Homo sapiens: one gene and its partner. The protein of the gene in region 2 purifies or fractionates together with the protein of the main gene of each other region. This does not show direct contact. Each region holds a gene or a part of one and is shown on either strand. Other genes may lie near its edges.

What was found. The genes of interacting proteins can lie anywhere in the genome.
Region 1: the proteins of TRIM58 (region 2) and KRT5 purify together in Homo sapiens (affinity purification with mass spectrometry, with the first as the bait; 2 studies listed by BioGRID). This does not show direct contact.

Annotation. Positions count from the first base shown.
Region 1 is NC_000012.12:52,517,062-52,524,557, forward strand, and holds the start of KRT5 (keratin, type II cytoskeletal 5), read right to left. Parts: upstream 3,334-7,496; 5' UTR 3,236-3,333; coding exon 2,681-3,235; intron 2,100-2,680; coding exon 1,885-2,099; intron 1,103-1,884; coding exon 1,042-1,102; intron 932-1,041; coding exon 836-931; intron 694-835; coding exon 529-693; intron 172-528; coding exon 46-171; intron 1-45. UniProt on the Homo sapiens protein: Required for the formation of keratin intermediate filaments in the basal epidermis and maintenance of the skin barrier in response to mechanical stress.
Region 2 is NC_000001.11:247,859,949-247,867,587, reverse strand, and holds part of TRIM58 (E3 ubiquitin-protein ligase TRIM58), read right to left. Parts: intron 6,972-7,639; coding exon 6,876-6,971; intron 2,884-6,875; coding exon 2,653-2,883; intron 1-2,652. UniProt on the Homo sapiens protein: E3 ubiquitin ligase induced during late erythropoiesis. Directly binds and ubiquitinates the intermediate chain of the microtubule motor dynein (DYNC1LI1/DYNC1LI2), stimulating the degradation of the dynein holoprotein complex.

The sequences.
Region 1 (7,496 bases), on a different chromosome or scaffold from region 2:
TTAGAACTCAGGCCCCTTCCTTGCCCTCTTTCAATCTCACCCTACCTGTTTCTTGACATTGTCAATCTCGGCTCTCAGCCTCTGGATCATCCGGTTCATCTCAGAGATCTCATGCTTGGTGTTGCGGAGGTCATCGCCATGCCGGCCAGCTGTCTGCTGCAGCTCCTCATACTGATGCAGCCAGGAAAGAGGAAAGATTCTGTTTATATGAGAATGGGAAGAACTTTCCCAAAGTTCACAGGCAGTGAGTACTAAGTGGTGGCAAATAGTGTGGGGCTGGTTCAGGCTTTTCCAAGGCTGAGCTAGTCTAGTGCCTTTGCTCTCCTGGAGACACTGGTGTGAGATTCAGAGTGAGATTATTTCTCAGGTCCTTGGGTTTAGATGGAAATTGTCTACACAGCCATTCCTATAAAGCATCCCAATGGGCTTCAGCAGGTTCCAGGAGCCCCATTCTTAGTGTCGTCATGGCCTAGAATCCTAGACATGGGTGTGTCCCCTCACTCAGGAGACAGTCATCAGAGCACCCACCTTGGTCTGATACCAGGACTCGGCTTCTGTCCGGCTGCGGTTGGCAATCTCCTCATACTGGGCCTTGACCTCAGCGATGATGCTATCCAGGTCCAGGTTGCGGTTGTTGTCCATGGAGAGGACCACTGAGGTGTCAGAGACATGCGTCTGCATCTGGGACAGCTCCTGCAGGGAGATTTGGAGTCGGTCATCTGGTTCTGTGTTGTGTTATTTAATGTCAGTTCCATTCAAATCTTTCACTCATTGTGATATGACAACTTGAGGAAAAAAAACCCACCCATGTGAAAAATTTAGATAAGTTTCTTACCGCATCAAAGAACATCTTCATGAAGTTAATCTCATCCATCAGTGCATCAACCTTGGCCTCCAGCTCCACCTTGTTCATGTAGGCAGCATCTACATCCTGGGGAAACAGGGATGATTGGCACTGCACACACCGTCACCCTACTCAAGTGAGCTCCACGCTTAGAGAGCATAGCTGCAGGCTGCTGGTTCTCTCCCACCCACACGCACCTTCTTCAGCATCACAAACTCATTCTCAGCAGTGGTACGCTTGTTGATTTCATCCTCATACCTGGTGGTGAAAGGGATGGGAAGTGTTTGTCAGAGGATGAGCAACAGGTAAGGGGTCTTTATTATGCAGTCAACTGTAAGCCTACTTTTGCAGTGGGAAGGGGCTTCTCCTCATAGGCAGAGAGGGAGGGGACACTGGTAGCATGAACCTCTGGCCAAGGTCCCTCCCCATTTAAATACTGCTTTCTCTGTAACTGCCTACCATATAATAATTCTATTATTGCTCTAATTCAGTTGTTTCAAGCAGATTCCTGCAGAAAAGCTGTGCTGTTTCTCCCCAACTGCATTACCTAGTCAATTTCTCTAGTGTTCTTTTTTGAGCTTTCAGAGGCTTTAAAAAAAAAAAGAAAAGAAACAAAATTAAATCTAGCATCCTAGTTGCTGGTTCATAAGACTAAAGAAATTACTTGAGCCACCAAGCTGGGTTATGTCACCAGCTCCTGCTTTGAGACAAATCTATCCAAAGGCCCATGTACCGGGGAGGAAAGTCCCAGAGAGCAAGCCTTACATCAGGGCAGATTTCACCAGGTAGTGCCAAGGGCACAGAGCATGTTGCTCTGGCTGTTGACTAAGTTCCTTGCAGAGGGCCTGAGCCTGGGGCTGGAACTTTCTAAACATGAGCCTGGCTTGTGTATTTGTTTGTTTGTTTTAGTACTGGAGGTGTCCATGGAAGGTATATCCTCCCAGCCCCAAAGGAAGGCATGGTAGTAGACTAGTAACAAAGCCCATCTGGTACCAAGAAGACACCACCCTCCCCTGTGTCCACCCTCCACCCCAACTCACTTGTTCTTGAAGTCTTCCACCAGGTCCTGCATGTTTCTCAGCTCTGAGTCCAGGCGGCCCCGTTCCCCCACGATGCTGTCCAGCTGCCTCCTGAGGTTGTTGATGTACTGCTCGAACAACGGCTCCAGGTTCTGCCTCACAGTCTTGGTGCCCTGCTCCTGCAGCAGGGTCCACTTGGTGTCCAGAACCTTGTTCTGCTGCTCCAGGAACCGCACCTGGAGGGGAGCAGGGTTTGAAGATAGAGAAACTTGGATTTCATGTTCTATGATCAACTCACTAAGGTGCCTCCCACCTCTTTCCGTCCCTCTAAAGCTTTTCTGTGCACTGTGCCTGGCCCTGGGCCCCAGGAGGGGAGGTGCAGACTGAGGCACCCAAACTCACTTTTCCAGGGGGAGATAGGACACCTATCCAGGGCACAGAAAGCACTAGGAGTGCTGCTTGGAGTGTGTCCCGGCTCAGGGGTGGCTGCAAAGGCACTCAGGCTGCTGCCCATGCACTTGTCTACCTTCCTGTACAGTCAGCCCCTTTATATATGGCATGAAATTCATCTCTCTGTCCAACAGTTGTTAAGAGGCCCTTGTGAGCTAACCTCTGAATGGGAAGAAATAATTCTCCCTTCCCAGCTGCCAGTCTAATTCAGAACGTGTCCACAAATCCAGGGCACAGAAACAAACGGAAACACAGAACTGTACAACTATAAAAGTATTTGCACAAAGCCAAAACATCTTCCTTCTTTCTCTCTCTTTGGCATTTATTTCAGACCCACAGTGATTTTTTACAAAAGATCGTAGCTCACCTTGTCGATGAAGGAGGCAAACTTATTGTTGAGGGTCTTGATCTGCTCGCGCTCCTCGGTCCTCACCCTCTGGATGCTGGGGTCGATTTGCAGGTTGAGGGGAGTCAGGAGACTCTGGTTGACAGTGACCTCTTGGATACCTCCAGGAGGGCAGACAGGAAAGCCAGGGCCACCGAAGCCACCTCCAAAGCCAGCTCCGCCACCGAGCCCAAAGCCACCACCAGCTCCACCGCCGAAACCAAATCCACTACCGGCACCACCTCCAAAGCCATAGCCGCCTCCAGCACCAGCACCAAACCGGTTCCTGAAGCTGCCACCACTAGTGCTGATGGATATCCTCTTGGAGCCCCCCAGGTTGTAGAGGCTCCGGCTGCCATAGCCACCCACTCCACAAGCACCCGCAAGGCTGACCCTGCCGAAGCCACCACCACCGCCACCCCCGGACCGGGACACGGAGGTGAAGCTGGTGCGGGAGACAGACGGGGTGATGGCAGAGGCGGTGCTGAAGCTACGACTGCCCCCGCTCCGGAAGGACACACTTGACTGGCGAGACATGGTGGCTTGTTCCTGGTGGAGCAAGAGAACCAGGCACTAGTGGGTTGGGAGGTGCTGGAGAGAACAGAGCTCAGCAGGACGCAGAAGGTGGCTCTGTTACCCAGGAACGGTGATGCCCCCTTTTTATCCCTTCCAGAACTGGGCTGGGCGAGAGAGCTGTCGAGCTGTGAATGATTAAGTGGGCTGGGCATGCCTGGGGGGCAGCTGTGAGCTCACCGGTCACACCTGCACAGTGGTGTGGGGTGCAAACGCTTTCTTCCTGGCAGGCTCTGCTCAGTTAGAAATAACCTTGCCTTGCAGCACTGATCTCTTGGCAGCAAGTTGGTGACGCTGCTAGCAAGTATGTCTTCACCATAGAGGCTGGGGGCTGTGAGCAGCCCAAAAAGGATGCCAGGAACTGAGGGGGCATTGGCATGGCCAGTGTCCTGGGGACTCTTACAGGACCAGGAGTATTGACAACCATCCCAGTACGGTACATGCTGAGCACCTGCCCTTCCAGCTTGGGGAAGCTGTCCATCAGCGGGGGGCAAACGATTCCCCAGTGATCTGCTCTTACACTTTTCCAGGCAGCAGGTTGCTGCAGGGTTTTCCCCTCTGGGAAAGGCAATCTGTAGCCTTATATTCTTGGTTATGTGCTAGAGGGAAAATAGAGTTTCATCCTTTTCTGCACAATTTTTTTCTTAGGGAAGGCACAGCTATCCCAGAGCCCACTGGGCAGATCTGCCTGCAAGGTTTAGGCCAGAGAATGTGGGAAGCCCTCAGCGCCCCCTATAAACCACTTTGACCTCTTTAAGGCCAGGTTTATCCTTCCATAGCTCCTCCTAACTCAGCATTTTTTCTGCCCTTTGACCTTTTCCTTGCTCTTTGGCCTGGGCAGGACTCTGTGGGGGGTTTAGGAAACCCGGGGATCCCATGCAATCCCTTAAAAAAAAACCCTGAGACTCATGGGCTATAGCGTCTCTCTTTGGGGGTAGCTACTCTGCCGGTTCCCCAGCCCCCCAGGTGTGTTCCAGCAAGCTCTATTCCACTAGGGAAGAAATGAGTCATCGTATGTGTTGATACAGGCTGAAGGCCGCCACAAACACATACCTGCAGGAGCTTCTAATCTCATCAGGAACATGTTGAGAGTCTGACGGCCTGTTATAACGGCGAACCACCCTGTTCCAAGCAGCGGGACTTGCTCTGCTTTCTCTATGCTGTAGCCCACAGCCTCCTTCAGGGCCAAGGCAATGGAAAACGGGATTCTAAGTCTATGGATTGTCCTGCCAGAAAGGCTAGCCAGAGCAGGCCTGTGGGCCCAGGCAGCTGGCATGACAATCTGCCAGCTGCTTTAGGGAGGGCCCTTTGAGATCCCCTCTGCAAAACTTGTCTGGGGGGTTGTGGCACCAGGTGGAGGAAAGGGGGTTTCTGATGAGGTTTTAACACACGTCTGTTCTAAACCACACCCACTCTTTTTGGCAGCAGATCTGAGTGGGGCCACCTCTCTGCCGTCCCCCAAATAGAAGCAGGGCTCTCAGGCAGGACAGTGCTTGGGCTGTTCAGAGTTTCGGGGGCGCCCTGTGGCCCGAGGCTGGAGGTAGGAATGCAATGGGGATGGCTTCAAAGCCTCAGGGAGGAGGGGCTATATTCTCAAGAGTAGAAGAACAGGACCAGACCCAGGCTCAGGAATCTCTCACCAGGGCCTGCGGTTGGCCACAAGGAAGCCAAGGCAGTGGGAAAATGACTCCCTGGTGCTGAGGATCAGCTGAAACAGTGACTTCTCACCAGAGGGCTGCGATGAGCAAGCAGCTGACAGGTCAATCTCGGCAGACAGACCAATGGCCGGAGCCGGTCTTACAGGTCTTGAGCAAAATGGTTTGGGTGGCCTCCCTGGCTGGAGCATTTCTGAGACCCTCAGAGATGAATTGTGCTGAGCTCACCATTTTCACATTTGGTTGCTTTCTGGAGAACAGATGTGAGTGTCCTGGAGGCCTGAGACATACCAGGGGACCCTCGGCTCCTGATAGAACAGAACAGATCCAAGCCTGAAGCAAGTGTCTGAGGACTCGTAGTGGGATGCTCCTGCTCCACTCAAAGATCGATATCGGGGTATATCCCCACCACCACATACACTCACAGGTCCCGGGTACAGACCTCACTGCCCTCAGGGAAGCCCCACCCCTCCTGAGACACTGGGACATTCTCTTCTCCCCATTCATTCTCCTCCCAGCTGTGTTGTGAAGAAAGAGGACTTGGCAGAGCAGGAATGCGTTCTGGCTAGTCTGAGGATTGCTAGAGTGTGCCAAGCTCAGATCCATGTGCCAGGGACCAACGGTGAGTGTGTGGTGCTCCATGGGAGCAGGGAGCATGTGGGTGCTCCATGGGAGAAGCAGCAGCACTCTTCTATCCGAGCTTCGTGGGAATCCTCCCATGAGCAGGCAGGGCAGCCCCTCCCTCAATGCCAGACCTGGACAGGTATAAATAATGGAGCCGCTCCTGGTGGGGAGCCAGGCACCAGCACCACTGCAGCTCGGGAGAGTCCCACCCCAGCCTGGAATTTCACTGTGGCAGGAAGGGAGGGATTGTGTTAGGCTCACCAGGGAGCTTTCCTGCTGGGCACCCCACAGAGGCAGTTCCCAGGCTTGGTGGGACATGTTGCTCAGCTTCTCCTCTGGGTGCTGCTTTCCTTGTCAGCAGAAGACAGTGCAGGGCCCGCCCTGCTGCTCTCCCCATCAGAGAAAGGACAGTAAGCTGGCTGCCCTGACCTCTCTCGCAGAGCTGTGCAGGGAATGTAGGACCTGGTCAGCATTTCATACATGGAGAAGCCCTTCACAGACACCAGGGAGAGGGTGGTATCCATTCGTGGAACAAGGGTTAGGCAAATCCTGCCATCCCAGCCCAGGATTCCTTCTCCTCAGAGCCTCCACTCCAATCTGTAGGGCTTTAGTAGAAGATACATTTAATAGAGCATGATAAATAGAACATGTTCCATAAAACAGCATTTGTACATATCCTCTAAGTCCCCCCCAGCAGGGCAGTCTCCAAGGTTAGGGAACATCTCTGCATGGCCCACACCCTCAGCCCAGCCTTGGGCACTGGAAGTGTTCTGCAGATATTTTTTGGAGTGAATTGACAGACAGAAAATCCTCTTCCTCCGCTCCTTCCCCAGATTGTTATGTGAAGCCCACAATGGCAAGAACCTCAATTGCTTTTGCACCAACCTATATCTACACCAACCTATGTATAACAGAATGTATATACATTATATATATTCACATATATTTCTGTGAATCCTCCAGCCCTATGCTGAGTCTCAGAGTCTTGTCCATCTGATTTTGTCTCTCAGTCCGTGTCTACAGGATGAGTCTGTTGTCCCCTTCACACTGGGTATGCTCTGTGTTTAGGATTTAGGATTTAATCTAGCATTTAGGATTCTTTATTCCTTAGGCTTCCCTCCATCCTTCTTCTTCCCTCACCCTTATTCTGAGGGTGTTCTGCATCTGAGCCCACTAACAAGTAGCCTGCACGTGCCACCCCAGCCCCCAGGCCCCTCCAGGAGAGAAAGAAAGCTTTAGTGGCCTCAACTTTGCAGCCCTTCCACCTCACGCTTGTTCAGCACAAAAAGTGGGGAGCAATAGTTGAGGTGTGAGTCACCCTATTCATTGGGCTATGGTTGGCAGCCCCATCAGGGAGCCTGCAGCCAGATTCGCAGGATGGGGAAGGGCAGATGGAACAGCGGGCCAGCCCAAGATAGCTCTTCACAAAGCCCTAGCCTCAGGGGGAATTGAGGGAAGAATTTTCCTGCCTCCACCCAAAGCCAGCGGAATCTTGCCCCCATCCCAACCTGGGTCCCAGCTCTGGTCCTAGCTAGATTCTCAGAATCACAGGGCCCTGAGGGGAGTGGCCACTCTGGATCTGCAGAGCTGGACACACCACCCCCTCCCTCCTACAGCCCAATGTCTCTAGGGCTTTCAGACCCCAGTCTGAAAACCGGACTAGGTAGAAAGGCAAATGTCCAGACATAAAGCAACTGCTCAGCCTTGGCTCAGAGGGCCTTTGGAGGTGAGTCCCTGCTGCCATTATTGAGGTCATAGTGACAAGTTACCCCCTGGAGTTGAGTTTTTCTTGTGCACGGGCTTCGCACACATTGTGGGTCACAGCATAGGTGCAAAAGCATGTGGCACCACTCCAGACCATGTGTTGGTCCTGACCCAGTCCTTGGATGGGTCTGGGACCCTGAGCAAGTTGCCTAACCTCTCACTGCATAGTTTTGTCCAGTGCA
Region 2 (7,639 bases):
GATTACAGGCTCCCGCCACCACGCCTGGCTAATTTTTTTTATTTTTTTGTATTTTCAGTAGAGATGGGGTTTCACCATGTTGGCCAGGCTGGTCTCGAACTCCTGACCTCAGGTGATCCACCCACCTCAGCCTCCCAAAGTGCTGGGATTACAGGCGTGAGTCACCACACTCAGACAAATCTCTTTTCTTTAAAGCTATACAAAGTTTAGGTTAATTCCTGCAACACCTATCAATTTAATTATCTTCTGAATTAATAATTCTGCTACTTGGATATTGTAACAGAGTAACATTCTGCATGTAATTCAGACGGAACAGGATAAAATAGATCCTAAGTACTCATAGAATTTATTTGAGGGGCATGGATAGGTTCCTCAAATAAAGACACAAAATGTTTCCCTAAATATCTTTATAGGAATTATAAATTCCTAATTCTCTGAACCAACGTACCAGAGCTATTCCTATGAGGAGGTTATCTAAATAGATTAATAAAGGAAGCCTTTAATAACTAGTAACATTATTTTCTCAAAGTAGATTATTAAATAAATATATCTGTGATACATTTATTATATTAATAATTGTATTTGGGATACATTTCCCCTCTCCCCTTAAAAACAGTTGCCAGTCAGATAAGTTTTAATGACATAAAAGCAGGGGAATAATTTGCTTTACCCTGTATGGGAATGTCAGGCCTTGGTCTTGGCCTTCAGGGGTAAAATGTAGCTTATTAGTACCAGGGAAGAAAGGGAAAGGAAAGTATAAAAATATACAGCCTGGGCAACACAACCAAGCCTCATCTCTACTAAAAATTTGTTTTAAATTAGCTGGGCGTGGTGGTGCACACCTTTAGTCCCAGCTACTCGGGAGGCTGAGGCACAAGGATCACCTGATCCTAGGAGACTGAGGCTGCAGTGAGCTATGATTGAGCCACTGCACTCCAGCGTGAGTGACAGAGTGAGATCCTGCCCTTTTAGAAAAATAGATAGATAAGATACCTTATTTAAGAATATATCCTCCCATGCCAGGCGGGGTGGCTCATGCCTACAATCCCAGCACTCTGGGAGGCCAAGGCAGGCAGAGCAATAAATACTATTGTTGAAATTGTCAAGCCGGGCACAGGGGCTCACGCCTTTAATCCCAACACTTTGGGAGGCCAAAGTGGGCGGATCACCTAAGGTTAGGAGTTCAAGACCAGCCTGGCCAACATGGCAAAACCCCATCTCTAGTAAAAACGCAAAAAAAAAAATTAGCCAGGTGCGGTGGCACATGCCTGTAATCCCAGCTACTCAGGAGGCTGAGGCAGGAGAATCGCTTGAGCCAAGGAGACAGAGGTTGCAGTGAGCCAAGATCACACCACTGCACCCTGCACTCAGCCTGGGCAACAGAGCGAGACTCTGTCTCAAAAAAACAAAAGAAAAGAAACCGTCAAAGTTCTTGTATTTTGCTCTCTGCTATTTGGAAAATTAATTCCTTTCTGACTCTTAGTTTGCTAACAAGGAAATGAACATAGCAATAATAATAAAATATAAATTTAATATATATAAGATAAAATGAGACAAATTAAATGGCTTTATAAATTCATCTAATGGTCCCCTGCCTCATAATCAGTCCTGTTTAGTCATTGTACTTGCAAATATTATACAGACAGTTAATAGGATTATTTATATTCATGGTACTTTCAGTGCCTAGAACTGAGTCAGAAAAGGTGGAATCCGTGGGTCAGCTTTTAAATGAGAACATGCATCACTTAGTTTAGAATCCCCTGCGTGAGTCACTGGGGAGGAGATAGGAGTCGGTCCAGATAAATTTCTGTTGCCATTGGTTCTACCAAGAAAACATGGATCTATCAACAACTTTGGCTTTCCCTGTTCACTTGGGATATGATGCCTCACAGAGGATTAAAAACAAAGATTTCCTTTCACTCTTACTCGTCTTTCTGCTCTCTAATCCCAAACAGACTGGGAGGAAGCTGCACGGGAGTCCACGTAATCCCTCCTCGCCATGCCTGGAACGGGCATGCAATGTGGGCCAGGAAATCAGTGTTTGCTTTACAATCCAATATAACAATTTCAAGCTGGACAATTTAAATCATTATTCATCCTTCTGGCCAGTGACACTGAAATGTATTATGCAGACTTTCTGTGCTAGCCATCCCTAAAAAACAGCAATGCTATCATGGACAAACTGACTCTGAGGTTTTAGGAATTACTTCTCAGCCAGCAGAGTGTAGCTTGTCCTTTCCCTAGCTGTTTAAGTTTTCAGAAATCATTAATTTTAAGAATTCTTTAGTCCTTAAAACAAACTATATGCTGTTTGTTTGTTTTTTGAGACAGGGTCTTGCTATGTTGCCCAGGAAGGTCTCGATTTCCTTGGCCCAAGCGATCCTCCTGTCTCAGCCTCCCTAATAACTGGGACTACAGGCATGTGCCACCATGCCAGACTCAAACTATATGATTCTCTAGAATCTCATGATTCTGATGCCAGGAATGGCTTCTGAGTAAATTCTAGGGTGTTTAAGCTGCCTTCTGAGTAAATTTGAGGGTGCCCTTTTCCTAAAGAACATAAACGCCAAAGTGTTTGTCTCTGAAAGCCATTGTACTAGTCTCTGTCACCTGAGTCTCACATCTGCCTGCTTTTCTGGCACCCGGCCTCACCTCCAGCAGACCCAGGGCCGGGCGCTGGCACCTCTCCTGCAGCTCATCCGCCAGCTCCTTCAGGGCCTTGCTCTGCTGGACCAGCCGGCTCTTGCTCTCCCGCAGTCTCTGCAGCGTCGCTCGCTCCTCCGCCTCCAGCCGCCTCAGCTGCCGTTGCTCCTCCTGGGCCAGAAAGCCACGATGCTTCTCAAACTCCAATCTGAAGCGCTGCCTCTGCATTTCCACTTTCTCCTGAGGTGACACCGTGGATCACATCGTCAGTGCTTGGCCTCCAGCAGCCATGTACAGGACAGTGCTGGAGAAGGTAATGTCCAGACTTCCCCGGGCTCCGTAACTCTGTGGACTCACTGGTTGCATCCTAACAACATGCACAGACTGGAGTCCATTCATATAAGAAGTAGCCCAGGAGAGTTTTCAAATTAAGTTTAAAAAATACTGTTGGACTGGAGTTCCCATTTTGCCACAGGCTTGGGGGCAAGGCACTTTTATACTGAAGTTTCAGTACCATATACAAAATGTGAGGTTTTGGGGAGGTCGAGGCAAGAGGAGTGCTTGAGGTCAGGAGTTCAAGACCAGCCTGGGTAACAAAGCAAAATGCGACCCCATCTCTAAAAAAATTAAAATGAACCGACCAGGCATGGTGGTAAGCCCTGTAGTCCCAGCTACCCACAAGGCTGAGGTGGGAGGATCACTTGTCTAAGAGCTCGAGGCTGCAGTAAGCTGTGATTGCACCACTGCACTTCAGCCTGGGTAACAGAGCAAGACTCCATCTCTTAAAAAATGTGGGGAAAAAGAGGAGTATGTGGATTACAGCTAAATATCTATTAAACTACAAGAACAGTGATTAGCATAGAGCAGTCACACAGCAGAAGTTACTATTTACTACTAGATCAGTCGCTAGAACCACTAGAAACAACTGAATGATGAAGAAATGTTTGTTTGAATAAGAAAAGGCTGAGAGATGAGAAAATATGAATGCTGTTTCATAATATGGTAATAGTGAACACAACCATAAGCCTAACATTCTCTACAAAGCCAAGAAAGAACTAAGTGATGCTCAGGCCACTGATTTCAGAGTTCACGTCAGAGAATTAATCCCAATTTCTACCTGAATCTCACGTCTTCAGTTTCTGAATAGACCTAAGGAACATACTTCGTCCCAGGCTTAGTTTCTAGATTTTCTTCTCTCAAGATAAGTATATCGAAAACTAACTTTAAGCTGAGTACGAGAGGTAAATTATTCCCTCAAAGTATCTATACCTCCCATTCTCTGTCCTGTTTTATCGATTTATTTTATTTTTTGTATATATTCATGGGGTACAAATGCAGTTTTGTTACATTGTTATACGGCCTTGTAGGTGAAGTCATTTGCCTGGTTTTTTTTTTAATCTTTTTTTTGAGACAGAGTCTCGCTCTGTCACCCAGGCTAGAGTGCAGTGGCGCGATCTCGGCTCACTACAACCTCCTCCTCCTGGGTTCAAGTGATTCTCCTGTCTCAGCCTCCCGAGTAAGTGGGATTACAGGCACGCAGCACCATGCCCAGCTAATTTTTGTATTTTTAGTAGAGACAGGGTTTCACCGTATTGGTCAGGCTGGTCTCAAACTCCTGACCTCACGATCGGCCCGCATCGGCCTCCCAAAGTGCTGGGATTACAGGCGTGAGCCACTGTGCCCAGCCTATTTGCCTGTTTTTAAACGTGATAACTTCTTGCTTTGACTAAAAGGCATGAGCTATCACCTTTTTAAACTAAACATCCCCTAAGACTTAACTACTTCCTTCCATTTTCCATCTCTACCTCCTTCCACCATTTTCTAAATCACCAGATTCAGAAAACTTCATCTTCTTTCTGAAATCAGCCAAGTCTGAATTCCATACACTGATTCCTGAAAGTGTAACTCATGTAAATATGAGAAGCTCTCTTCATATCAGAGGCTGTGCTGTCGTGGGGTGGGGCAAATAACGCAGCCACTGGAGAAGGGTAGAGTCATACCTGGGGCACGAGGGGGTGTGAGGTGGGAAGGTGGGAAGCGATTTGCCTGCAATCCATCTTCCTTTCACACCACCCTCTTGAGCACAACTATATCTGCAGACAGAGAAAAAGGAAAGGTGGTTTTGCAGTATTTAGAATAACTTTTGACCAAAGATGTGTTTGCTGCATTTGGCTCACATGGAGACATTCTTGATGGTAATGATCATGCAAGTTTACTTGGCTTAGAACAGGGATCTTAGTATCATCCCTACTTAAGAATAATCTGTAGAGGGCTTAAAACATGCAGGAACTCAGCTCTCCGATATGGGGATTCTGATTTTATAGATCTATGGTCAGGCCAGGATTGAAAACAACTGACTTGTATTTCAGCCTGAAAAGAACAAAAATTATCAATCAATATTACAATATTAAATAATGTACATCCTACCACTATGTACATTATAGGCAAGTAATGAACATTATTTAATACTGTAAAGCTTTGTTCTTGTTCTTTTTATCTCCATTGCCACTACCCAATCGAAACTATGCTTTACTAGCTTGATCTTACTGCAGAACCCACTGCTATATCCCTATCACCTAGAATTGCATCTTATACTGTCACTACTAGTTTAAAGATATTTGTTAATAATATTGATAAGTTTGTCAGTATCAACGTTAATAAGTTTAAATATTTCTTCACACATCTGAGTAACGTTAGGTACTAATGTTATTAACATCAATATTATTTAATATTGATAACTTTTATCCTTTCCTATCACTATCTACATCATTTACCTATAATGTACATTTTTCTTTTCTTTTTTCCTTTTTTTGTCTGAGACAGAGTTTCACTCTTGTTGCCCAGGCTGGAGTGCAATGGCACGATCTCAGCTCACCACAACCTCTGCCTCCTAGGTTCAAGCAATTCTCCTGCCTCAGCCTCCCGAGTAGCTGGGATTATAGGCATGTGCCACCACGCCTGGCTAATTTTTTTTTGTATTTTTAGTAGAGACGGGGTTTCTCCGTGTTGGTCAGGCTGGTCTCGAACTCCTGACCTCAGGTGATCCACCTGCTTCGGCTTCCCAAAGTGCTGAGATTACAGGTGTGAGCCACCACGCCTGGCCTTAATGTACATGTTTCTTCTGGGATAAGTGTTATCTTTTCCTATCCGTATATATCTATATTGTAATCTAGTAATGTAGTAAATAAAGAAAAATATAGTTTAAAAAGTCTTTATGTAATATCTGTATAAAGACAGAGTATAAGACTAAATTTTCAAAGAAAACAAGAAGGAAATAATTATAAATATATAGAGTGATCAGAAAAGAAGGGTTATTTGGAAAAGGAGAAAGAATAGGAATATTCTGCAAAGTATAACCTATTATATATCATATTATATAATACATTATATGAATATATAGAACTATACACACAGTTTCTATACGTAGTTTCTCAATCTTGACACTACTGACATCTTGAACAGATCATTTTTTCCTCACAAGATATGGGAACTGTCCTGTGGACTACAGGGTGTTAAGCTGCATTCCTGCCTCTACTAGATGACAGGTGCACTGCACCCACCCCTCCTCAGTTGTGACATCCAAAAATATCATCTCCAGAAATTGCAAAATGTTATCTTGGGGGGCAGGTATCGCCTCAGGTTGAGAATCACTGTGTGTGTGTGTGTATGTGAATCACTGTGTGTGTATGAATCACTGTGTGTGTGTGTACACGTGTGCACGCACATGTGCATGAATGAAACATGGAATAAAAAGAGCTAGTGAGGTATAAAAAAATGGAATATGTGTATGTATAGATGATAGAAAAAAAAGGCTAAACGTTCAGATTATTACCCTGTATATAAGATGATCACCTTGGGCTACACTTCTTCTGTTACAAAGTTGTGAAATATTCATTATTTCATTCACCTAACAAATATTTTCAAACTGGTAGCAACAGTATAAGATGCTATTCTAGGTGACAGGGATACAGCAGTGGGTTTTACAGGAAGATCAAACTAGCAAAGCTATTTAATTATAATTTGGATTGGGTGATGGCAGTAGAGACAAAAAGAACAAAAATGAACCATATCATTTGAGGGGACGGGATGACCCAGGATGGCTCTGAGGTGCTCTTGGGCATATATGGAGATGGAACAAAAGTGCTGGAGAATGGAAGATGGTAGAAGAATTACTGACCCGAATCTGGATCCTTCAAACAGGCAAGCCTCCTAAAGCCCCAACATGGTCTTACCTTCCAAATGACAGTCTTTTTCCCCACGTTGGCCTCCTGAGTCAAGGCGTCCTCCAACTCTTTCCTCATAAGTTCCAGAGCCATCTGGAGCTTTACCTGTTTGGGAACATTTCAGCTGTTACAGATGCCCTCAATCTGTACCTAACGTCACACAGATGTGTGAGGAAATACAAAAGTCAACTTAAACAGTCCCTAGAAAGCACATAAAAATGTTCAATATCATTAAAAACTAAACATAAATGTACTTAAGTTTTAGTGTCAGGGTCTCGCTCTGTCACTCAGGTTGTGCAGTGTTGCGATCATGGCTCACTGCAGCCTCAAACTCCTGGGATCAAATGATCCTCCCACCTCAGCCTCCCAAGCAGCTAGGACTCCAGGCACACATCATTACATTCAGCTAATTTTGTTTTCTGTAGAGATGGGGTCTTACTATATTGCCCAGGCTGGTGTCAAACTGCTGGCCTCCAGAGAGTCTCCCATCTTGGCCTTCCAAAGTGCTGGGATTATAGGCATGAGCCACTGGGCCTAGCTCCTTAAATGTATTTTAATACCAGATACAATCAAATATTTATCTAAAAGTATGCTCACTGCATTGTTATATACGATAGCATAACTAAACTAAAACATTAAAGATAGGGGAGAAAAAAATTATATTAACTGGATAGAATTAAAATAAGATGTTACAGAATGTTTAATGACTAGAAATACAATGATAATGTCCAATGAATAAAAATATTTTACAAAACAACATGAATTTTGAAAAA